7 linked regions of the Homo sapiens genome follow. The protein of the gene in region 1 purifies or fractionates together with the protein of each later gene. This does not show direct contact. Each region holds a gene or a part of one and is shown in the gene's direction. Other genes may lie near its edges.

Region 1 (3,500 bases):
ACTCAGTAAAATTCAACTCCAGTTGGGGTGGAGTCAGGGTGGTTTATTGGACGCCTGTGTGCCTGAGATTGGGCAACAGCACCTTTTCACCCCTGTAAGGGCGTTAGCTTAGCTTCAGTATCTCCAGAGCACGTACCTTGCCGTGCAAGCACCTCTCTCTCTGTGGCTCTCTGCCAGGGCTGATACACCTTTGGGTGGTTTTCAGGTGCAGGTGATCCCCTGGGTATTAGCCGACAGTAACTTTGTCCGGAGCCCATCTCAGAGGCTTGACCCCAGCAGGACGGTGTTTGTCGGTGCTCTGCATGGAATGCTAAATGCTGAGGCCCTGGCAGCCATCTTGAACGACCTATTTGGTGGAGTGGTGTATGCCGGGATTGACACAGATAAGCACAAGTATCCCATTGGTAAGTGTCCCACTTCTGTGTGCGAAAGCTTGGTTGGCCCCTGGGAGTAGACCAAGATTGTGATACTTCCCCATGGGAGTGAGGAGAGAGGCCTGACCCAGGTCTGCAGATCAGCATATACCAGCACCATAATATCTTTTTCTAGACAAGTCACGAGTACTGGCCCTTCTGTATCTAGCCCTCTACCCACCATCTCCCACGCAGTGGGAGAAAAAGCTATTGGAGACTACAGGAGGTGATAAGAAGTGAGAGTGAGGTAGGAACTTTGTTGGAAGCTCAGAGTTCACAGCGAAACCAGTTTGGAACAGACAACAGGTACTATTTCATGAAAAGGCTGCAATTCTCTGAACTTGCCTGGAGTTTTTTATTAAAAGTTCTTGAAAAGCTCTGGCATTGTCTAAGGTCAGAGACCAGGTCAGGCTGGAGGAGGACTTTCTGAGTGAGTCAGGCAACAGAGTGTGGCCTGTGCTTTCCTAACTCAGAAGTCTGTGGGCCTAACCACTAGGTTTTGATCAGCTCCTCTGAGAAAGGAGGTCAATTCGCCAGTCCTGGCAAAATGTCAATGATGAGGTATGGAGGTGGAGCAGAGCCTGACCTCTGTGATTAACATGTGGCTAACCCACCTCCCCAAATGCTTAGTCTTCACACCCACACTGAATCTGGTCAGGAAGGAGCACCATGTACTCACCAATACTGTGCAGCAGATTGAGAACAGGGACTTCAGAAGCCCCAGGAGCGGAGGAGGAACTTGGCAGGATGGGGCTTCTTCCAGCTCTCTTAATAGGTCTCCAGAGTGCCTAAGGGCTAGGAGAGGTTCAGTTCAACTGCTGGGCTTACCCTTCAGACAAGTGTTCTATCTGCATCTTGGCTTCCACTCTGAATCCTTTAACCTTAACCTATGCTCTACCTGCACTGAAGGAGTCCCTTATCTTTCCTTCCCATCTTGATCTGCAAATTCTTCCCCCATTCCTGAATGGTTCACGCTAACATGATCTCCACTGTCAAATATGGTACGAATATGGTAGCTACCAGCTAAATGTGGCCCCATTGAGTTTTGGAAACACAGCTGTTGTCACATTTGGAAATAATATTATTAACATATAGGGTTAAATAAAATTTTTTTTTTGAGATGGAGTCTCACTCTGTTGCCGTGCTGGAGTGCAGTGGTGCTATCTCAGCTCACTGCAACCTCTGCCTCCTGGGTTCAAGTGATTCTCCTGCCTCAGCCTCCTGAGTAGCTGGGACTACAGGTGTGCGCCACCACGCTCAGCTAATTTTTGTATTTTTAGTAGAGACGGGGTTTCACCATGTTAGCCAGGATGGTCTCCATCTCTTGACCTCATGATCCGCCCACCTTGGCCTCCCAAAGCACTGGGTTTACAGGTGTGAGCCACCGTGCCCGGCCAATAAAATATATTATTAAAATTAATGTCACCACTGTTTTAAAATTTCAGTGTGACTACTAGAAAATTTAAAGTTACATAAGGGCTGACCATGATGGCTTATACCTATAATCCTGGCACTTTGGGAGGCCGAGGTGGGGCAGATCGTTTGAGTCCAGGAGTTCAAGACCAGCCTGGACAATATGGTGAAACCCTGTCTCTACAAAAAAATACAAAAATTAGCCAGGCATGGTGGCTCATGCTTGTAGTCCCAGCTACTTGGGAGGCTGAGGCAGGAGATTGTTTGAGCCTGGGATGCAGAGGTTGCAGTGAGCTGAGATCACGCCATTACACTCCAGCCTGAGTGACAGAGGGAGACCCTGTCTCAAAAAATAAATAAAGTTACATAGTAGCTCACATTATATTTCTGTCGGACAGCACTAGTATCGTAAAGGGTTTCCTGCATTTTAAAAGAGTAGCATTAGGGCAGGCTCGGTGGCTCACGCCTGTAATCCCAGCACTTTGGGAGGCTGAGGCGGGCGGGTCACAAGGTCAGGAGATCAAGACCATGCTGGCTAATGGTGAAACCCGATCTCTACTAAAAATACAAAAAATTAGCTGGGTGTGGTGGCAGATGCCTGTAGTCCCAGCTACTCGGGAGGCTGAGGCAGGAGAATGGCGTGAAACCGGGAGGCAGAGCTTGCAGTGAGCAGAGATTGCGCCACTGCACACCAGCCTGGGCGAAAGAGCGAGACTCCATCTCAAAAAAAAAAAAAAAAAAAAAAAAAGTAGCATTTGGGAGAATTTGGTTAGAAGGGAAGCTTGTGTCTGTTGTCCTAGGTTCTGGTCGTGTGACTTTCAATAACCAACGGAGTTACCTGAAAGCAGTCAGCGCTGCTTTTGTGGAGATCAAAACCACCAAGTTCACAAAGAAGGTGAGTTGGCTGGTTTATGCCCTTACTCTGGGGTATATGAGAGGGGTTTGGGCAGTTACTACCCAGGGCAGGCCTGAGACCTGAAGCTGTTTGTGCTGGGTGTGTTTAGGGAAGTGAGCCAAATTCCTGAGAATTAACATTGAGGTTAGGGTTTGGGAGTGGGCTTGGTCTTTGTACGCCCAGGAGGAAGGGAACTGGGACTGTTGAGCCTCTTCAGTGTGTAGGGTGCCTTCCCTCACTGTGGTATTTCTTTGGCATTGCTCAGTAGCCTGACTTCCTATTTTCCAACCTTTTGGGAATCCTCCGAACACTTGCCTATACTGCTAATTGATAGAGGGCTGAGGTACAGTTTGCCTAGAAGACCAGGCATTAAGGTGTGTGGTTGCCTGAATCCCAGAGGCATCCAGCCTGACTGTGCATGGTGTATGAGTCTGTCCTCTAGAACTCCTTTCTGTACTTCAGGCCCATAATTCTCTCCAAGCCTCCTTTAAAACAGGCAAATATCCTGCATTCCAATATCCCGCATTCCTGTGTGTGGCCAATAATGTGCCCTTCTTCTATCGCCTATCGAGCCTCCTGGTAAGAAGAGCCACTTCATCATCTTATTTTGCCTTTGTGCAGGTTCAGATTGACCCCTACCTAGAAGATTCTCTGTGTCATATCTGCAGTTCTCAGCCTGGTCCTTTCTTCTGTCGAGATCAGGTGGGTCCGATGTCTATGAAGTCCCTGCCCTCTATTAAAAATTGTTGGCTGGGCGCGGTGGTTCACACCTGTAATCC
Region 2 (3,500 bases), on another chromosome or scaffold:
GCTCTAAAATCAAATGCTTATGTTGGATTCTAATAAGGGGGTTTTATTTCAGGTATTTGTAGGCAAAATACCAAGGGATTTATATGAGGATGAGTTGGTGCCCCTTTTTGAGAAGGCCGGACCCATTTGGGATCTACGTCTTATGATGGATCCACTGTCCGGTCAGAATAGAGGGTATGCATTTATCACCTTCTGTGGAAAGGAAGCTGCACAGGAAGCCGTGAAACTGGTATGTGATAATTATCCACTGTCTTAGCAAGTCACTATTTGAGGAAATAAACTTTAATTCAAAAATGTTTGTAGTTAACATTATTTTGATTTCTTCAGTTGTTGCTTGGAATGTTTTTATACTGACCAAGTTGGTATGTGACGTTTATTTTTCTCTGACTATAAAAGTAAAAAAGAACTGAAAATACCCAAAAAGTAATGTTTTATAGAAAGTCTCCCATTGATTTAAGAAGTTATCTATTAGATTGATATCAGAAGTTTCATATGAGTATTTGGCTTATGCATTTCTGTCTTTTGGTTTTAGGCAAAAGGATGTCAATTCTTGATGTTAAACTTTAGGATTCTTAAAGTATAATGAAGACTGGAATGGGCTGTGGGGAACATAATAGTGGATGACAGTGACTTAGGATTCAATTCAGAAAATAGTTGTGAATCTGTTTTATTTTGGTTACAGCCTACTCATACGATTTATTTCATATTTTCTAAGTGTATTTTTGTTCTTCCTGTATGTTTCTTGGCCCTTGAGTCTTCTCTGTCTTTAATCTTTCTCTCCTCTCCTACTATTTATAGCCAGTCTCATATTAATTTCCTTTCTCTAGGGCCTTTAACCACTTGGTGCTCATTTCAGACCAGTAGTAGTAGCAACAAAGTTCTGCAAATCAAATGTATCTTCACTCCTGCTGTATTTAAGACACAGCTATCTCAGTATCTTAAAATAACAATGTAATTATTTTTTGGCATACCCTTGCCTGACTTCTGAGGACCTCACTAAGTCTAGTTCTAGCCTTTGTAGAATGGTCAACTTCTTTCATCAAGGCTTTGGTTTCATTACTGGTGTCTGAATTAGTTCCACTCCTAGCTTGACCCAGATTTTAGTTTTTATTATGGATTTTTTCTTCAAACTTGTTTATTTAATATTAAGTTTTCATTTTTGGCAGCATATGGATGATTTTATTTTTAATAATCATATCTCTTAGTAAACTAATGGTTAAATAATATTAAAGTATAAGAAGCTAAAATTGGCCAGGTGTGGTGGCTCACGCCTGTAATCCCAGCACTTTGGGAGGCTGAGGCAGGCAGATCACCTGAGGTCAGGAGTTCAAGATCAGCCTGGCCAACGTGGTGAAACCCTGTCTTTACTAAAAATACAAAAATTAGCTGGGCGTGGTGGCGCACGCCTGTAGTCCCAGCTACTTGGGAGGCTGAGGCAGGAGAATCACTTCAACCCAGGAGGTGGAGGTTGCAGTGAGCAAAGATCATGCTACTGCCCTCCAGCTTGGATGACAGAGCGAGACTCCATCTTAAGAAAAAAAAAAAAGGGCTACAATTTATCAAGAAAATCCACTATAGTGATTTAAATAAAACATTTTTCAAAATTTTATAAAATTTTGAAAGTATTGTGTTTGGTAGACAATTTAAAACTATATATTTAGAATTCTGTGACTTCTGTAGAATTTGAAATTTTTCTAATATCTTTGCATTGATTAAACATAGTTGTTACCCTTTACATATTGTTATTTTGAGTATGGCTTACCTATATGCAATTACATTTCCAAGGACCCTGAATGATCAGTCTCAGGTATTTTTTTCTGAAAAATCTGTGGAAAAACATTTTCAGATAGATAAAATTAAAATATGAAATAAGATATTTTAAACAATAAAGTGAGTCCTTTTTATATGGAAGAGTAGTGAAGGTTAACAAAACCAAACTAAAACAAGAGACTGTAACAATGAAGTTTAAAATATACATTCATATTATGGAAAGCATGAGGGAACTTGGTGAGTTGATGAAGCAGGGAGCGTTTGGCCTTAAATTGTTGAATTTTTTAGATTAAGATCAATTGTCCTGAGTTTGGGGTGGTTTTGGGGTCTCTGGTTCTTTTCTTATTGCAGTGTGACAGCTATGAAATTCGCCCTGGTAAACACCTTGGAGTGTGCATTTCTGTGGCAAACAACAGACTTTTTGTTGGATCCATTCCGAAGAATAAGACTAAAGAAAACATTTTGGAAGAATTCAGTAAAGTCACAGGTAAAACAAAAATGTATTTAGAAATTACTTTTGCGAAATATGTTGTACTACTTACAAGTGCTCAAAAAAACTGAGGGGTTGTATGTATTAAATTAAGAATTCAGGTCTGAAGTATCTAAATTGCTTCCTTTCTGCTTTATAGTGGTTTGGGTTTAAGCAAGTTCCCTTATATCCTTCATTTCTTGGAATGTCCCCTTCACTTCTTTGTCTTAATTGAACCTTGGCTTTTGCTGGAGCTTTTGCTCTATAGCCCTCAAGTGAATGCTTTTTTTCCCCTTGACAATTAGTGTATTTTAGGACCAAGAGGATGAAAGTTTTTACTCTCTCCCTGCTGCCTTGTCTAGATCAGATTTTTTTTTTTTTTGAGACGGAGTTTCGCTCTTGTTGCCTAGGCTGGAGTGCAATGGTACGATCTCGGCTCACTGCAACCTCCGCCTCCTTGGTTCAAGCAATTCTCCTGCCTCAGCCTCCCGAGTAGCTGGGACTAGCATGTGCCACCACGCCTGGCTAATTTTGTATTTTTAGTAGAGACGGGGTTTCTCTATGTTGGTCAGGCTAGTCTAGAACTCCCGACCTCTGGTGATCCTCCCGCCTCGGCCTCCCAAAGTGCTGGGATTACAGGCGTGAGCCACAGTGCCTGGCTGATCAGATTTTTTTAAATATCCAATTCTAAATCCATGGAATTGATTGAGAAGTAGATTTTATATCACAGTTCTATACACATTTATATATAACTGAAACAATTTAACAAAACTGTACTTTTATTTATTATACATGATTTATTTTGATATTTCTTATTCTATTTCATTTTTTAAAATGCCAATTGTGATCTAATACTACCTATGATTTAAAAACACTGCGTTAGACCGCTGCCTCCCCTTGTAAAAACCACTGTTTCTTTACATTTTTATCATCCAGACATATCCTTTCCCTTTTGTTGAAGCTGTCATTCGTTGCTCTTGTGGTTTCAGCCTTTCATTAATCTAAAGATTGCTTCTGGCTCACTGTCTTCCTCTTCTGCCCTAAATTGGCTTCTTTCTAATACCTTTAACATCTACATTGGTGAACCATCCAGGGCTTTAGACTCCTACCTACTTCTATGTCTACCTCATCTTTAGTCCTTTACTTCAGCTCCACCATATCCAGATTACATTCTGGATCTAGTCACCAGAAATTCTATGCACTCTGAACTCTTGATTTCTAGCGTCCCACTTTGTAACCACTGCTACCACCCGCTATATTG
Region 3 (4,201 bases), on another chromosome or scaffold:
ACATAGCATCACACTTTTTACCCAAGGTTTTACTATACTGCAGACTTTTGTGTACGTTTTGAGAACATCCAAGACATAAACCTGACCAGAGAAGAAGGGAGATTGTATCCAAGAATAATAGGGATTTAGATTTGCTGGTCAGAATGGAGCCAGACATTCAGTTTGAGTACGGTTGATGGTACGTTTTTGAGATGGTAAGTAACAAGGCAATTTTTAAGAGTTCACCCTCTCTATTCTTCTGGAACCTCATCAGGACATTGAGGGAGAAAAAAGGTAAAATCTTTGGCTGCTTTTCTAGTTTTTTCTTCTACTTTGCATAATAAGTTTGTAAGATGTTTTCCTCTGCCCTATTTTACCCATCCCCGTAGCTTTGGTTCCCACTGACATTGCATTTCCTGTTGCTAAAGCCTGTTATTCCTGGCTTCATTTGGTTGTTGGCCTGAGAGAAGGTACCGGGTAGCCCAGCTGGAGTATGACCTGGGTTCTGGACTTTCTTCAATTCCGTAGATTGAGTGTGTGGCCTCCTGCTGGTAGCTACTATGGAGAACAACACTAGCTTTGATTTATTTGAAAGTGATGTATTTGATTTAAAACTTTGTAGTGTAACTTAGCTTGTCCCATTCTAGTGTGTGTGTCATTTCATTCTGCGGGAAAAAAATAGATACAAAGGTTTGTTATTGTAGCCCCACCCCCTTAAATTTGTCTATACAGTCTTCTGAAGCACACTGCCCTTTTAGTTCTCTTCTTGGTACTGATGCTGTCACTATTAACCACTTATTATTGCCTAACACAACAGTCCCTTACGCTCAAGATGCTAGTATTTTGATGAATATAAGGGTCCACCTTATATACCAGTAAAAATTAAAGAGCAATACAGACTGGAATGCAACGAAGCGCCCAAATATGTGGCTCAGGGGTAAGGGTCGGTCACCAGCCTTTCCACATAAGCCGATGTGGCAGAGAAAAGCAATTACTGTGTATCCTGGCAGAGCCCCTTGTCCCTCCCTCCCACACGTACACACCTTTATCTCAGAGACACTGGGTTCTTTTCCCCAAACTTCTTTGACCCTTATGCCAACTACGTGCGTCTGAAAGCCCGAGAAGGGAAAATGGGGGAGGGGGCGTGTCGCCCCGAGTTTACGTCCCTGGAAGGCTGGGGGAGGCGCTGGATGAGCTTCCCCATTCCGGCCGCAGCCGACCTAGATCCCAGCCCTGCCCTTTGCTCTCCTGCTTTTCACTGAGTCCCGAGGCTCTGGAGGGTGGGCGTGAGGGTAGCCCTGGCTGAGGCTCGGAGGTCCTCCCGGGCTGTTCAGAGGGCCCCAAGCGGTAGCCACGTTCTGATACTGGCTAGAAGCCAGGGGAGGGAGCTTGGGGTAAGGGGAGGGCCCTGAGGGAGGGGTCAGACGCTTTAGGAAAGAGTTAATGCGAAGAGGGGGAGGGGATAGGACGAAGAAACCGAAGGGAAAGCTCAGGTAAGAAAAGAACGGAGGAGGGAAGCCTGGTGGGGAGAAGGGAGCCCGCAGGATCAGGGGTCAGAGTTAGGGGGCTTCCCTCCTGCTGCACCCTCATCTCAGGGCCGCCAACTTCCAGCTGCAGCGGCGACTTTCAGTTTCATTTCCACGGACCCTCCTGCCTGGGCCGCAGCCGCCGCCGCGATGCCCAGTAAGTTCAGCTGCCGGCAGCTCCGGGAGGCGGGCCAGTGTTTCGAGAGTTTCCTGGTCGTTCGGGGACTGGACATGGAGACAGATCGCGAGCGGCTGCGGACCATTTATAACCGCGACTTCAAGATCAGGTACGGGCCGGCCCACTCCCGGCCCCGAATCGCGGGCCCAGCTTGCTGCCACGACCCCCGCGCGAGGGCCACCTTTCCCGCCCCGGGGCGCAGAGGGACGCAGCTCCCCCAGCGGCTCAGGCCAGTCCCGGGGCGGCGCAGACCTCCCCTCCCGCGCCTCGCCCACGCCCCACCAGCGCCGCCCGGAGCCCGCCAGTTCTGCCCGAGCTGGGCCCCTGCGCCAAGTCGCCGCGGAGAGCCTCCCGCGCTGCCCGCGCCCCCGGAGGCCGGAACCCGGGGCCGGGAGCTGCGTCCCGCGTCCATGCGCCGCTCGCGGGGGCTGAGGGACAGCGCTCGCGGTGGGGGAGGGGAGCCTCCAGAGGGGGCCCAGGCATCGCGGGAGCGCGGGTTAGAGGCTGCCTGTTGGGGGCTGCGAGCCCGAGCGCGGGCTTTACAGGGACCTCTGCCACCTTGTTGAGGCGCTGCTGCCTCGGGGGTCCGCTATCTGGGAGAACTGAAGAGGCCCAGGGTAGAAGGGAGAAGCTCAGGAAGCTCTGGAAAGAAGAAAAGGGCACAAACTACGTGCGTACCAAACCTCCATTAGCACCTGTGGCTTCTCCATGGAGACCCAGGGGCAGAGCCAGCCTTCTGGAGGCTCCCTTTCACCCTGTGGCTGAAGGCTCTTTGGTCTCCTTTTCCTGCTACCACCCAAGTGAAAATCAAAGAGTCTTCTGTCACACCACAGAATTGTGCTTCAAAAACACGTTTATCAACAGGCTGCTGCCTTGCGTGGAAAACCAAGAAGCAGTTTAACAAGGGTAAACGTAAAGACTTGTACAAATAAACATAAGGTAGTGGGAATCTGGGCTTAATAACAGACCTCCCGAAAAAGACCTTGGGTTTTAGCAGACCAGAGGGCCAGTATGGGTGAGATATGGCTGCTAAAACAGCTGAAGTCTAAGATTGAGCTAACAGAAGTGTGATTTGGGGTGGGGGAAAAGGGTAGAGACTCTCCATATTGGTGAAATCGTGTCTGGAATATCGTTTTCACTAATGGTTATCACATTTGGAGAGGGATATTAACAGGCTTGAACAACATCTGAGAAGGGGCAAAGATGATGAGGCCCTGTTTTATGTCACCATGCTGGACACTATGGGGACTCTTAAGATGAAAAACACACAATCCCAGAGGAGCATCAGAGGCTATGATATGCATGCAATATACATGTACACAATATAGGATAGTACATGGTAAAATGGAGGATTATACTAGGGATGGTAAGAGAAAAATGCTGGAGGAAAGAGCGAGCATTTGCATCACATGGTATCAACACTTAAGGTATGTGAATTCACCTATATCCACAGAGTACAACATGGCTAGGAAACAAGTCACCTACTTCTTTTGGCTCTGTTAAGGAAAAAGTAATTGGTTAAAACAGTAAGGCTGACTTGACTCAAGGCTATGGTAATAGGGTATTGCAATAGGAAAGAAGAGAGTTGGAGCTCAATTCCGAATACAGCAAAAACAGCGGGGGATTTATGACCAATGAACAGAGTAAGGGGATCAATATATAGAAAATTACTAAGAGGAGTCATAAAGAGTGGGAGGATTTTTGCTCACCTGACCTAACAAGATTCTTGTTAAAGGCAGACCAAGGACTTGTACATCAAAGGCGGGAATGAGGAACTTGATCAGATATCAAGCGTGGTCATGCATCAAGGGTGAGGAGTCTCACTAAAATGACTTCAGTATTCTTGCTAAAACTGAACTAGGTGGGCCTAAGACTGAAGGGTTTGGGGAGGCAAGGTCAAGGGCTAGTCAAAAAGAGGGCTCAGGGGAGTCTAACAAAAGTTTGATCAAGGAGAGTCTTTGTCAGCTCTAAACCAAAGGTACATAGTATGTTTTAGTACTGGGGAAAAACTGGTTGTGTTGGATTGCATACAGAAAGCCAGATATACTGTATATTATGGGTGAATGTAGGCATTTTCCAAAGTAGTTTTTACTGTATGCACTTGTGTTTATGCAGATAAGATACCACTCCTCTGTAATCATTAGGGGATGTGATGGAGAAGATGGCATTGACTTTAGCCTTGAAAGAGATAAAATTTTAGTACATAGAGGAGGTGGAAAGGCCTTCTATGTGGGTTCATATTCTATCCTGAGACCCAGTGAAAGAAACTCAGAAATATTTGCCTCAAAAATAGAAAAATCAGACAGTACAAGGTAATTATCCTTGACTATTTTGGAGTGTTATAATGGATAAGATTGCACTCCTGTGTCACTCCAGAAGACAGAAGCGGGTTTCATCAACTATCCCCGCTCTGTACCCTCATCATGTTGGGGAAATGTATGTTCAGATTAAAGAACTTGCCTACACATCCTTTAAAGCCAGGCTGGAATGCTGTGAAGTCAACCTTCATTTCCCAGTA
Region 4 (3,500 bases), on another chromosome or scaffold:
CAATCAGGAAGCATATATTGGGTTAACCACCCACTCACAGAGGTGGTAGGACTTGTGCTCCAAAGATCGGGAAATTTTCATAGCTGGAGTTTATATTGAAAGGTACTATTAGTGTGAACAAAGATTTGCAGTGGGCGTTAGTATGGCTTTTAATAATGCTATATAGAAAGTAGATTGGTCTGAGCCAACAGCATGTTCTAGAGGTTTGGTGGAAAAGGTTCAAAATAGGTAGGGCTTAGTTAGAATGGTGAAGGTTTTGACATGCAAGTGCAGGACAGTAGGTTTTACCAGAGGAGGCATCATGAAGCCATTTTAGACCTTGGACAATGATGGTTTGATTTAATGAAAATTGATATTCCTGAGTCCATACAGGTTAATGATCTTTGTCTTTATATTACTACTAACTTTTTTCTTAATAGATACAAAGCATCACAAAGACTGATCTCTCAAGATATCCATAGTAACACATACAATTACAAAAGCACTTTTTCTGTGGAAATTGTTCCAATATGCAAGGTACTTTTCTTTTTCATTTAATCCATATCTGTAAAAGAGTACAAGTAATTAATTGGCTTATATGTAATTTGTAGCTCCTGGTTTTCCTCTAGGGTTGGTTAAAAATTTAGAATAAGTTCCTTAAGTGACTTCTAACACATTCAGCCATGTTAAAAGATATATATTTTTAAAAAAGTCATGCTTATAATTATGAATTGACATGCCTTTTATTTTGGTGTATTAAAATGAAAAGACCTGGTTATAGTTGATAAAAGTCCGTATTCTTTGAAATTTGTGATCCTATGAGCCTGTATCATATAGTTCAGTGAAATTGAATAAAAGAAATGACATTAAAATCAATATTAGTGAGCCACTTTGTGGAATATGTACAAACAAAATTTTGGCAAGAAATGAAAGAATATTGTGATAATGTGAAAATGAGATCATAGAATCATTTTTATGATTTTAAAACATAAGCTGAATAAAACATTTAAAATGTAGATTATTTCATTTAATTGTACTAAGATAAAACTCTGCTTCAGAAAAATATGAATTAAAATTCAATAAATAGTTATTGAGTATCTATAGTATAGAAGGCTGTGTACTGAGGATTGTATAACTACAGGTCTCTGCCATGTAAGAATTTATATGTCAGTATTAAATCACTAAGAATGATAACTGCCATTATTGTGACCATTCTACATAAAGTTAATCTAGATACTTTAGTGTCTTTCACCTCATTCTCATCTCATAATAACTGAGGTAAGCCATATCATTTTGACGATGAGGAAATTGAAGTTTGAGGAGGTTAGATAACTTGCCCAAAGTTACATGATCACAAAATGATGAAGCTAGGATTTGCACCCAGGTCTGTGTCTCCAAAGCTTTAAAACTGCTATTGCTATTTTATAGTATGTACTAGGGATGAAATGATAGCTTAAAATAGGGTCAGCAAACTTTCTCTGTAAAGAGACAGATGGTAAATTTTTTAACTTTCAGGTCGTATAATCTCTTTTGCAGCTACTCAGCTTTGCTGTTGTACAAAAGTAGCATGGGTAATATGTAAAGGAATGTCAGGGCCGTGTTCTGGTAAAACTTTATTTACAAAAACAGATGGTGGGTCAGATTTGTCCTGAGGGTGGCATTTTGCCAACCTCTGGTTTAAAACAGTAAATGTTTCCCTGGTACAAATCTTGAGAAATATGAATTTAGGTGTGAGGGCATATTTAGGCCTTGTGTAACTGAGTTTTACACATGTAAAAATTAACATATGTATTAAACTATGTAAAAAAGTATATTTGTTTATCTTTGGAAACTCATGTATTAAAAACCAAGGACTGAACTAAGAGCTGTTATGATTGTGAATAGATACACCTTAAAATATAACTCAGATCTTTTTTGTATTTTAATTCAGTTTAAAAACAGATAATTACGTTGCTGCTTCATGTCTCCCAATATAAATGTAGACATGTGACTTTTTTGGGCTTAAATCTTTGATTGTATATTGGCACATGTAGCCATGTAAGAGAAATGTGTTCCTTTGAAGTTTATTTTTTAATGGAGATTGAAAGAAGTCACAGGTGGATTTATAGAATCACTCTCCTGCTAATGTTTATAATACTCTGTTTAGAATGTACACTGTATTAACATATAGAGTGATAAGAGGCATTCACACTGCAATAAAATGGAAATAATAATAGCTTGGTGATTTGGGCCCTGGATTTTTTTTTTTTTTTTGAGAGACAGTTTTGCTCTGTCACCTAGGCTAGAGTGCAGTGGCACCACCTTAACTCACTGAAGCCTCGACCTCCTGGGCCCAGGCTGTCATTCCACCTCAGCCTCCCAAGTAGCTAGGCCCACAGGCATGCACCACCACGTTTGGCTAATTAAAATATATATATATATGTATATGGAGACAGGGTCTCCATATGTTGTCCAGGTTAGACTTGAACTCCTGGGCTCAAGGGATTCTCCCACCTTGTCCTCCCAGATTGCTGGAATTACAGGAGTGAGCCAGCGTGCTCAGCCAGGATTTTTTTTTTTTTAAAGCATTTTTATTAAGACAAGATGCCTGTCATACTTAAGGTCTGATTCTTTTCTTTAGTCTCTTTGTTGATTGATAGAATTGAAAATAACGTTTTGGTTGGTCAAATGCAATTGGATTGGGTGTTTATTGATGAGTGTTTATTGGACTGTTATTTAGGATATGCCTCATTCTAAATGTTAGTTCTTATGCCTAGGATAATGTTGTCTGTCTGTCTCCAAAACTGGCACAAAGCCTGGGAAATATGAACCAGATTTGTGTGTGTATTCGAGTAACCAGTGCCATTCACCTCATTGATCCAAACACCCTACAAGGTAAATTCTGGAAATGATTTGCCTTGACAATTTTGTTTTGTATGACAAACAATAATAATTTGTGTTGTTAATTTTTCAAGCATTCTTGCTAATATTGTTTTGAAAGGTTAGTTAAAATTTGTGCTATTGTTTAATACAAAACATTGTGGAATTTGCAAGCTTTGATTAGTTACTTTTGTATTTTTTATTTAAAGAAACAATTCTGTTAATTTTTACATATTTACTGGTTTATTCCATTAATTTTTACTGAAATTGACTTTTTTTTTTTTTTTTTTGAGATGGAGTCTGGCTCTATTGCCCAGGCTGGTGTGCAGTGGCGCAATCTCAGCTCACTGCAACCTCCGCCTCCCAGGTTCAAGCTATTCTCCTGCTGCAGCTTCCCAAGTAGCTGGGATTACAGGTGCCTGCCACCATGCCCAGCTAATTTTTGTATTTTTAGTAGAGACGGGGTTTCACTGTGTTGGCCAGGCTGGTCTTGAACTCCTGACCTCGTGATCTGCCCGCCTCGGCCTCCCAAGGTGCTGGGATTACAAGCGTGAGCCACCATGTCCAGCCTGAAATTGACTTATTTACCTCATTTAATTTTTGTGACTATTTACTTAAGTCCATTGCCAAAATTTGGTGTCTAGCAGTTATTTTAAATTTTG
Region 5 (3,500 bases), on another chromosome or scaffold:
GTAATCCCAGCTACACAGGAAGCTGAGGCAGGAGAATCGCTTGAACCTGGCAGGCAGAGGTTGCAGTGAGCCGAGATGATGCCATTGCACTCCAGCCTGGGTGACAGAGTGAGACTCTGTCTCTAAAAAGGAACAACAACAAAAAGGTATTAGAGAAGTTGCACGGACAGCTCCTGGACAGTTGAGGAGGTGGGAGGGAGAATGGGTTGGAGGGGCAGCATGCGCCAGCAGGGGGAGCTGTGGACGAGCAATGGGTTGGCGCCTAGGTTATGGCAAGAACAGTGGCTGGTGGATGTTGGTACAGCTCAGGACCGGTGTGGGAGCATGGCCAGGACCAGCAGTGAGCCTGTGGGGACGAGATCCTCTGGTCTAGTGAAAGAGTGGTTGCAAAGGCAGGGGGAGAACGGTGCTGTCCTGCTGGGGAAGCCAGGCCAAGGAGGGATGCTTGTATTGCTGCTCTGTGGAACCAGAGGCATTCTTGTCAGAAGGGAGGCGGTGACGCAAAAGTGTGGCAGCTGAGCCTTGGATCGGGCCCTGCCCCAAGGGTTCGCGAATGTGTGTGTGGCATACCTTGGCCCCATCGTCTGTCCCATAATCCTGCGGTTTTCACGCGTCTATTCTTAATAGACAGACTTTAGAATTGGTTTGTCAAATGCTTAATAAGAAGCCTCTGCAGACTTTGATTGGAATTGTGTTCAATTTATGGATTAATTTAAGAGGTTTTTGTCTCCTCACACATAAAAGTTCTATCATCCAGGAACATATATCTCCATGGATTTACATCCTTTTGCCAAGTTGTGTGCTTAGTCCATACCTTTCTGACCCACCTTAGTTCACCTTAGGTAGGTGATGGTTTTTGTTACTGTTGTGAATAGAATTTTTAAAATTAAATTTAATTATCTCAAAAACCCAAGGAGAAAGTTTTATGAAGGCAGGCCATGGTCACTCTCCAGCTTGTCATGAGTTGGGTGGGATTGAAAGCTCACTGTAGAGAGGTTCCTGGCCCGTGGCCCGTGCTGTCTGCTGTCACATGGCCCTGATGTTCACCTGACAGGCCTTGTTCTTGCTGTCCCGCAGACTTTGTCGCCTTTACCACTCCCAGTGGCAGCTCCTGCAACCTGTGCTTTCTTTGCAGTTGCTCCTGTTCTCCCAGCTGCTCACTCATCTCACCCACGTCTTTGTTCCTTAGACCCTGGCCATCTGCATTTCTCTTCTGCTGCTTAGATTCCTTGTTTGTTTGTTTGTTTGTTTTTGGAGATAGGGTCTTGCTCTGTCACCCAGGCTGGAGTTCAGTGGTGTGATCATGGCTCACTGCAGCCTCGATCTGTAGGCCTCAAGTGATCCTCTTGCCTCAGCCTCCCAAGTCTCTGGGACTACAGGCACATACCACCACCCCTGGCTAACTGCCTCTTATATTCCGAACTGCTTGAGGGCAAGGACCAGGTCTTGTCTCTCCTGATGATGCTTAGGTGGCCAACATGTTGCTGCGTACATGCTAGAGACTTAGGCAATGTTTAATTTATATTTTCTGTAGAAAAGCATGAAGCTATAACACATTTAAAATCATATTTTTGTATAAATAGCTTTAACATTTCAAGTTATTTCTCTAGAATGTATTCCTAACATAGGATTCTTATATTCTCTTTTTTTTTTTTTTTTTTTTGAGACGGAGTTTCGCCGGAGGTTTGCTCTTGTTACCCAGGCTGGAGTGCAATGGTGCGATCTCAGCTCACCGCAACCTCTGCCTCCCAGGTTCAAGTGATTCTCCTGCCTCAGCCTCCCAAGTAGCTGGAATTACAGGCATGCACCACCATGCCCAGCTGATTTTGTGTTTTTAGTAGAGACGGGGTTTCTCCATATTGGTCAGGCTGGTCTCAAACTCCTGACCTCAGGTGATCCGCCCACCTCGGCCTCCCAAAGTGCTGGGATTACATGCGTGAGCCACCGTGCCCAGCCTTCAGGATTCTTATATTCTTATATATAACTTCTTATAACAGAAGTTGTATCCGTTTCATGGTGTGGGCTACATAGGTTTTTTTGTTTGTTTGTTTGTTTGTTTTTTTGTGGAGTCTCTATTGCCCAGGCTGGAGTGCAGCAGCCCCATCTCAGCTCACTGCAACCACTGCCTCCCAGGTTCAAGCGATTCTCCTGTCTCAGCCCCCTGAGTAGCTGAGATTACAGGTGCCCACCACCACGCCCGGCTAATTTTTGTATTTTTAGGAGGATGGGGTTTCGCCATGTTGGCCAGGCTGGTCTCCAACTCCTGACCTCGAGTAGTCCACCTGCCTGGGCCTCCCAGAGTTCTGGGATTACAGGTGTGAGCCACTGTGCCCGTCTGGCTACGTATTTTTTTTTCTTTTCTTTTCTTTTTTTTTTTGAGACGGAATCTTGCTCTGTCGCCCAGGTTGGAGTGCAGTGCCATGATCTTGGCTCACTGCAAGCTCCGCCTCCCAGGTTCACGCCATTCTCCTGCCTCAGCCTCCCAAGTAGCTGGGACTACAGGCACTCGCCACCACGCCTGGCTAATTTTTTTGTATTTTTAGTAGAGACAGGGTTTCACCGTGTTGGCCAGGATGGTCTCGATCTCCTGACGTCATGATCCGCCCGTCTCGGCCTCCCAAAGTGCTGGGATTACAGGTGTGAGCCACCGCACCCGGCCCTACGTACTTTTTAATTGCTGTATTTACTGAAGCTTCCTAGATCATTATGTGAATGTATCTTCTTGGGCTTGGTGCGGTGGCTCATGTCTGTAATCCTAGCACTTTGGGAGGCCAAGGCGGGCGGATCTGTTGGGTCCAGGAGTTCAAGACCATCCTGGGCAACATGGTGAAGCCCTGTTGCTACAAAAATTCGCTGGGCGTTGTGGTGCATGCCTTTAGTCCCAGTTACTTTGGAAGTTGAGGTGGGAGGGTCACCTGAGCCCAGGAGGCAGAGGTTGTAGTGAGCCGTGATTGTGCCACTGCACTCCAGTCTGGGTGACAGAGCGAGACCCTGTGTCAAAAAAACAAAAAACAAACAGTATCTTCTGCTCACCCATTGCCATGTGGGGTTATTTGTTTGCATCAAAGCTAGGCATCTTTGAGAGTTCCATGCCCAGTTCTGGACTAGGGGCTGAAGTGGGTAAACAGATGAAAAACCACGGCTGCACAACACAACTTAACGGTGTAGCTGGACACGGACCAGGCCGACTGAGGTGTAAAGATGGTATCAATCCTTAAAACGTCCCTTTTCCCCTCCAGGGTTGGGGTCTGCTAGGTCCCCGGAATGAGTTGTTTGACGCAGCCAAATACCGAGTGCTAGCTGATCGCTTTGGCTCCCCTGCCGACAGCTGGTGGCGTCCGGAACCCACCATGCCCCCTACTTCCTGGCGGCAGCTGAATCCAGAGAGTATTCGACCAGGGGGACCTGGGGGCCTATCCCGCTCTTTAGGCCGGGAAGAAGAGGAGGACGAGGAGGAAGAGCTAGAAGAAGGGACCATAGATGTTACCGACTTCTTGTCC
Region 6 (3,500 bases), on another chromosome or scaffold:
CAGCTGCCAGAAACCTTGCTTATGGCTTCCTGATGCTACAAAAGCTGAGGCAAGGCCTTCAGTCTGTTTTTTCAAAGCAGTCATTCCGGTAACACTTCTAAAAGCAAAACCACGTGATCCATGCCTATAATAGGGAACCCTTATGGCCAAAGTTTCTAGTTGATAGAAGAACAAAAGAATTAAGGTAACAAGACAGGTGGAATGTGTAAGAGCTTGGACTCTGAAGTCAGGCTGGATTTGAATCCTGTTTCTGCTACTTATTTGTGAGGTTTTGAGAAAACCAAGTTTTAGATTAAGTTCATCCATTAAGTGGGGGCATTAAATGCCTGCACCATAGGGTTATGATGATTAAATATAAAGGATTTAGCAAAAGAGATGCCTGCAGCATAAATAACATTTTTAAAGTATTGGTTTTAAATGAGACAGTGCTGATTTTTAAAGGCAACCTACCAGAATGGAGGTTGTTGATTATTGATTCTCCTTTTTCACTGCAGAATATTAGTACAGCTGTTTTGAGTTTGTTTTGTGCTTAATAAACCTTACATCAATTTTGCAGTTCCTAGGGAACTTGGAAAACTAGGGATAGATCATCATTTTTGTTATCAGTAGCCACAACTTTTTTCTCCTCAGTGTCGTTGGGGTTTCTTTTTTTTCCCCTCACCGCTAGATGTTTTGACCGAACATTATGTTCAGTCTGTTCTTTGCTACCCTTCTCCTGTCCCATCATGCATGACTGTGTTCTTTCTTGTTTTTTTCCTTCTACTCTTCAACAGCTGCCCCTGACAAATGTGCTAAAAATAACAAGTAGACTTACATATATGGAGAGATTGGGTACATGAGACATAGTAGCTTTAGGGCAGCACTCTGGGCTTCTAGGAAACAAGGACAGGAAAAGTCAGTGAGATTGTAATATGCACTTATTTTTAGCGTCTTAATAGTGCTTTCCTGAAATACTCCTCCTTAGTGTTTGGCTTATACAACATATATCACGTTTGCTGAAAGCATGATGATTCTTTTTCATATCTTTTGAAATAAAATGTATTTCACCTTAGGAATTGAAGTTTCAGAGCAAAGTCGTTCCTTAGTGCCACGTAAAACATCATATGCAGAAGCTGATCGAAAGCTGCTTTTGAACATGTACGCTTATTCCTGTAACTTAACTGCATTTAGTTAATTGACTGAATGGCTGACTTTCCTACCTATTCCATGTCAGAAGTAAAAGTTGTCTTGATCCTTTAAACCATATTTTTTAATAATCTTTATAATATCTACTAGCTCTCTGACTAAGTAGTCTGGTTAAGCCAGTCAAGAGCATCAAAAGAAAATTCCTAAAGCTCTCATCCATATAACTAAGCTACTTCAAGGTTGTCAGTGTGTTCTCTTAAAAATATATAGATGGATCTCTAGGATAGTAAAAATTATTGAGATCAAATATAAAAGTCTTCGCCAACGTTTTCTACTATTACAACGCTATGAAATTTATTGGGCATAATAGAAAAAAAAAATAGGAATATATAGGCCAGTGGTATTTGCCTTATGCACTAAGGACATAATATAGCATGATTTATTAGTGACTGAATAACTTCCATTTTTAAAGAAAATAGTTCTATAGATTTGAAAATTAAGTAGAATCATTCACTGAGCTACTATGTGCTTGTTGTCTTTGAGAAAATAATTATATGATGGAGGGAAGGGAGCAACATTGTGGCATCTACCAGGTGACAGATATTTGGAATCGGTTCTTACTTTAGTTGTCTCTAGAGCCTGAGGGAAGCAGTGGTTTCCATATTTTTTGTTGTTGTCACAAATGAAGGAATTTGATTACTTTTAAAAATCAGCAACTTTTATTTTACATGGACAAGAAGTGGTAGAACTTAATTTTAATTCATTTTGTTCTTGTCATCCAGTCTTTCTGGCAGACTCTCATCCTTTATACACGTTAATTGCTGTTTCTGTCAGTCTTTTTTTGTGACTCAACAGTTTCTGAGGAAGAAATGGCCGAGCTTACTTAGGAAACTAAAGAGAGGCTCATGTGATGGGGATGATGTGAATGAAGGGGGAGAGGGTATGAGGTGAGATCTCAGGGGAGGTCAGACATGCTGGTAGACCACTGTAAAGACTTGACCTACTGTAAATGTGATGAGAAGCCAGTAAAGGGATCTCAACAGAAAAGAAACATTGAAGAGATTATTGGACTGTTTTGTTGGGACTAGACCACAGGAGGTAAGAGTATAAAAGCAGGGAGAACAGCTGCTATAATCTTTTCAGTAGAGAAATGAACATGGGTTGTATTAGAGAAGCTGGCAGTGGAAGGTCTGATTAAATGGTTAGATTTGGAAAATGTTTTAAGCATATAGAGGTGTTGGCATTTCATGATGGATTGAGTGAAGAGTATGAGGAATGGTAATATATTGTATGAGGAGTAAATAATACCTCTGCAGTTTTGATTTAAACAAATACGGGAATACTGAAGAAAGATTGGGTTTGGAGGGAAAGGTGAAAATTCTTTGGAGGTCTTTTTCTCATATTAAATTCACGTACAAGTGGAGGTGTTAAGTAGGCAGAAGAAATAAAGCAGAGGGAAGAGGTAGAAAGTGGCTGGAGGATGGAAGGTGTAGTCTTAGATACAGTGGTTGACAACATTTTTGGGAGTTCATTAAGTTGTATTTGAGAAGAGACCTAAATGGAGCAAGGGATCAAGTCCATCAGGTCCCAGGAAAGGCGTGAATGGGAGTCTGAAGGGGAGAAATGGAACTGCAAATAATTATTTGGAATTATTTATTTATTTATTTATTTATTTATTTTTTGAGATGGAGTCTCACTCTGTCACCCAGGCTGGAGTGCAGTGACACGATCTCGGCTCACTGCAAGCTCCATCTCCTGGGTTCATGCCATTCTCCTGCCTCAGCCTCCTGAGTAGCTGGGACTACAGGCACCCGCCACCACGCCTGGCTAATTTTTTGTATTTTTAGTAGAAACGAGGTTTCACTGTGTTAGCCAGGATGGTCTCAATCTCCTGACTTTGTGATCCACCTGCCTTGGCCTCCCAAAGTGCTGGGATTACAGGCGTGAGCCACCGCTCCTGGCTGATTTGGAGTTATAAAACAGGATGTTTAAAGCCGTAGGGGCAGGATGATATTAACTATAAAGTGAGTGTAGGTGGAAATAGGGTCCTAGGATCAAGTTCTGGGACACACCAACGATTAAAGATTAGGAAGATGAGGATTGTCTAGCAAAGGACAGTGAGAAGGAGCAGCCAAGGAGAATGTATTTCAAGAAAGAAATGTGTTAAATGCTTGTTGATAAGTAGAGATTAAGCTGAGAATTGATTATTAGATTTGGTAACTTGGAGGTCAGTGGTTTGGTGAAGACAAAAGTTTAAATAGAATGAACTTAAGAAACAGCAAAGGGCGGGAAGAGGAGACATATTCCCCATTGAGGTTTCTGTAGTGGTGGTCATGGTGTTTGGTTTTTCTTTAGTATGTATGTCTGTAAAGAAA
Region 7 (3,500 bases), on another chromosome or scaffold:
TGGAGCCTGGAAGCAGCAGAATAGTTTGAAAGGGCCCCATATTCCAATTAAGGAGATAATGCTATTTCTTCCTCTCTCCCTTACTTGCTACAACAAAGTCCTTTGAGCCCCCTTCATGCCTCCCTTAAGCCCTCCTTCAACCTTGGTAAACAGACCGGTAGCAAACCACATGACCTGTGACTTTCCTCCCTTTGGGCTGCACCTGGTTTGTGCCCAGATGTATTTATCCTCTGAGAAGGAATCCGATCAGTTAGCAAGTGGCAGAATAGTCTCTCCTTCCCTTTGGTTCTGGCTCACGGCTCCTGGCATAGCCACTGGTAGGGCCCTTGGGGCCCTAACTGAGAGCTAGCCCCTGGGGAGGAGAGCCTGTATGCTGCCCATCCTAGCTTTCTAAAGTTCTCTCTGGGTTTGGCTGCAAGGTTCTTGAGGGAATTTCTGGTTTTAGTTCCACCTCTGAGCTTTCACACGTGTTATCCCAACCCCAGTAACATTCTCCATTCTCATCACTGAGTCATTACCTGTGTATCCTTTGAATCAAGGCTTATCTGTTATTTTCCAGGTCCCTTTCTTCATTCCTGGTACTACTTTGTAGCCTTCAACACAATCATATTAAATTTTTGTGTGTCTTTAAGATTTGTCTGTCTCACTAAACTGAAGGCTTCAGTGGGGCAAGCTTGTCTTCAGCTGTATCCCAGGCTCTGGAGTATAGTATGCATGCCATGAATAGTTAATATTATTATTCTTACCACTCTTAGTTGAGCTCCTGGACCTGCAGATGCCTTCTGGATGCTTTGGTCCAGGGTTCTTCATGAACCGCCCCTCTAATTGGCCATTTTTAATTTTGTTTTAAGATGCCATGGACAATATTACCAGGCAGAACCAATTCTACGATACCCAAGTCATCAAACAAGAAAACGAGTCAGGCTACGAGAGGAGACCACTGGAAATGGAGCAGCAGCAGGCCTATCGTCCAGGTAGGAAAATACACATGGTTCATCTCTTTGGATGGAAACAATCTACATGGAGCCTTTACCCCCTGCTTAGAGCGGGTCTTCCCAGAGAAACTGTGCATCTTTTTTCTTGGGCAGTTCATCTAAACATTGTCACTCTGGCAAGAATTGTTTAAAGGAAAGATCTCAGTCCTATTTCCAAGTGTTGGGAGAGGGGAGGTTCCATGGTATCTGTAAAAAAGTGATGTTAGTATCAGCCGGGTGTGGTGGCTCCCTCCTGTAATCCCAGCACTTTGGGAGGCCGAGGCAGGTGGATCACCTGAGGTCTGGAGTTCGAGACCAGCCTGGCCAATATGGTGAAACCCGTCTCTACTAAAAATACAAAAATTAGCCAGGCATGGTGGCAGGCACCTGTAATCCCAGCTACTTGGGAGGCTGAGGCAGGAGAATCACTTGAACCCAGGAGGCGGAGGTTGCAGTGAGCCGAGATCGCGTCATTGCACTTCACTCAGTCTGGGCAACAAGAGTGAAACTGCATCTCAAAAAAAAAAAGATGTTAGTATAAGCACCCTGGAGAGTTGAGACCCCTAGACTAATACTTGAATCTTATTTAGAATCTTAGAATGGGGGAGCCAGAAAGAGCCTTCTAAGTCTAATCTGGTATTTCTCATGTTCTGAAGATTATTGTTTCAGGGGATATTATTAGGGGATTCTCAGAAAAGGGTTCCTTAGCCAAATGTGTCTGGAAACTGTAGCATGTGCTATATCGTCTCTTGGAAATTCACTGTGCTTGTTAGAACATTAAAGGCTCTGAGAAGTCCAGAATTTAAAAAAAAAAAAAGAAAGTGTGTGTCAGGCCTCAGGCCAGGTGCGCTGGCTCATACCTATAATTCCAACACTTTGGGAGGCCAAGGTAGTAGGATCATTTGAGACCAGGAGTTCCAGACCAGACTGGGCAACATAGTGAGACCCCTTCTCTACAAAAAATTTAAAAATTAGCCAGGCATGGCTATGACTGACTACATGCACACACCTATAGTTAAAGCTACTCAGGAGACAAAGGTAGGAGGATCACTTGAGCCCAGGAGTTTGAGGCTGCTGTGAGCTATGATTACACTACTACACTCCAGCCTGGGTGACAGTGCAAGACCCTGTCACGAAAAAAAAAAAAAAAAAAAAAAACCTAAAATTAAAAGTAGGTTAGAACACAGTGGCTCATGCTTGTAATCCTAGCGCTTTAGGAGGCCAAGTCAGGAGGATCACTTGAGCCTAGGAATCCAAGACTAGCCTGGCAACATAGTGAGACCCCTGTTGTCTTTAGAAAAAATTAAAAATTGCCTGAGCATGGTGACATGCTTGTAGTCCCAGCTACTCAGAAGACTGAGTCAGGAGGATCACTTGAGCCCAGGAGTTCAAGGCTGCAGTAAGCTATGATCGTGCACGGCACTGCAGCCTGGGCGACAGGAAGACCTTGCCTTAAAAATAAAAACAGGCCGAGTGCGATGGCTGTTACATGCCTGTAATCCCAACACTTTGGGAGGCTGAGGTGGGAGGATTGCTTGAGTCCAGGAGTTCAAGACCAGCCTGGGCAACATAACCCTGTCTCTATAAAAAATAAAAATATTACCTGAGCATGGTTGCACAATCCTATAGCCCCAGCTACTCTTTTTTTTTTTTTGAGACGAAGTCTCGCTCTTGTTCCCCAGGCTGGAGGGCGATGGCGCGATCTCAGCTCACTGCAACCTCCGCCTCTCGGGTTCAAGCGATTCTCCTGCCTCAGCCTCCCAAGTAGCTGAGATTTCAGGCGCCTGCCACCACACCTGGCTAATTTTTGTATTTTCAGTAGTGACGGGGTTTTACCATGTTGGCCAGGCTGGTCTCAAACTCTTGACCTCAGGTGATCCGCCCGCCTCAGCCTCCCAAAGTTCTGGGGTTACAGGCGTGAGCCACTGAACCCGGCCAAGTCCCACCTACTCTGGACCCTGAGGTGGGAGGATCACTTGAGCTAGGAAGTTGAGGCTCCATGAGCCATGATGGCAGCACTGCATTCCAGCCTGGGCAACAGTAAGCCTCTGTCTCCAAAAAAATTTTTTTTTTAATTAAATTTAAAAACCTTGTGTCTTCTTGGGCTGGTGTTGCTGAAAATATTTTTTTTAATAAAAAAATAGACAAAAAACCTTGTGTTGTATCGTTTAAACTTAGGATTTCCCAATCATGTTAAGTATATGTCTTTACAGAACAAAGTTCCCCATGATGCCAACTCTCCCTTCCCTTTTTTTTTTTTTTTTTTTTGAGATGGAGTCTCGCTCTGTTGCCCAGGCTGGAGTACAATGGTGTGATCTTGGCTCACTGCAACCTCTGCCTCCCAGGTTCAAGTGATTCTCCTGCCTCAGCCTCCTAAGTAGTTGGGACTACGGGCGTGCCACCACACCCAGCTAATTTTTTGTGTGTTTTTAGTAGATGTGGGGTTTCACCATGTTGGCCAGGATGGTCTCAATCTCCTGACCTCATGATCTGCCTGCCTCGGCCTCCCAGAGTGCTGGGATTACA

What was found.
Region 2: the proteins of CPEB1 (region 1) and HNRNPR purify together in Homo sapiens (affinity purification with mass spectrometry; one large-scale study listed by BioGRID and IntAct). This does not show direct contact.
Region 3: the proteins of CPEB1 (region 1) and MOV10 purify together in Homo sapiens (affinity purification with mass spectrometry; one large-scale study listed by BioGRID and IntAct). This does not show direct contact.
Region 4: the proteins of CPEB1 (region 1) and NMD3 purify together in Homo sapiens (affinity purification with mass spectrometry; 2 studies listed by BioGRID and IntAct, with this or other methods). This does not show direct contact.
Region 5: the proteins of CPEB1 (region 1) and DHX30 purify together in Homo sapiens (affinity purification with mass spectrometry; one large-scale study listed by BioGRID and IntAct). This does not show direct contact.
Region 6: the proteins of CPEB1 (region 1) and YBX3 purify together in Homo sapiens (affinity purification with mass spectrometry; one large-scale study listed by BioGRID and IntAct). This does not show direct contact.
Region 7: the proteins of CPEB1 (region 1) and HNRNPUL1 purify together in Homo sapiens (affinity purification with mass spectrometry; one large-scale study listed by BioGRID and IntAct). This does not show direct contact.

What each region holds. Positions count from the first base shown.
Region 1 is NC_000015.10:82,546,364-82,549,863, reverse strand, and holds part of CPEB1 (cytoplasmic polyadenylation element-binding protein 1), read left to right. Parts: intron 1-205; coding exon 206-404; intron 405-2,626; coding exon 2,627-2,721; intron 2,722-3,342; coding exon 3,343-3,423; intron 3,424-3,500.
Region 2 is NC_000001.11:23,320,285-23,323,784, reverse strand, and holds part of HNRNPR (heterogeneous nuclear ribonucleoprotein R), read left to right. Parts: intron 1-52; coding exon 53-229; intron 230-2,121; coding exon 2,122-2,257; intron 2,258-3,500. UniProt on the Homo sapiens protein: Component of ribonucleosomes, which are complexes of at least 20 other different heterogeneous nuclear ribonucleoproteins (hnRNP). hnRNP play an important role in processing of precursor mRNA in the nucleus.
Region 3 is NC_000001.11:112,673,258-112,677,458, forward strand, and holds the start of MOV10 (helicase MOV-10), read left to right. Parts: upstream 1-1,401; 5' UTR 1,402-1,472; intron 1,473-1,480; exon of another isoform or gene 1,481-1,590; 5' UTR 1,591-1,655; coding exon 1,656-1,792; intron 1,793-2,233; exon of another isoform or gene 2,234-3,493; intron 3,494-4,201.
Region 4 is NC_000003.12:161,238,311-161,241,810, forward strand, and holds part of NMD3 (60S ribosomal export protein NMD3), read left to right. Parts: intron 1-419; coding exon 420-516; intron 517-2,735; coding exon 2,736-2,853; intron 2,854-3,500. UniProt on the Homo sapiens protein: Acts as an adapter for the XPO1/CRM1-mediated export of the 60S ribosomal subunit.
Region 5 is NC_000003.12:47,837,638-47,841,137, forward strand, and holds part of DHX30 (ATP-dependent RNA helicase DHX30), read left to right. Parts: intron 1-3,239; coding exon 3,240-3,500.
Region 6 is NC_000012.12:10,706,324-10,709,823, reverse strand, and holds part of YBX3 (Y-box-binding protein 3), read left to right. Parts: intron 1-3,500. UniProt on the Homo sapiens protein: Binds to the GM-CSF promoter. Seems to act as a repressor. Also binds to full-length mRNA and to short RNA sequences containing the consensus site 5'-UCCAUCA-3'. May have a role in translation repression.
Region 7 is NC_000019.10:41,267,372-41,270,871, forward strand, and holds part of HNRNPUL1 (heterogeneous nuclear ribonucleoprotein U-like protein 1), read left to right. Parts: intron 1-851; coding exon 852-974; intron 975-3,500.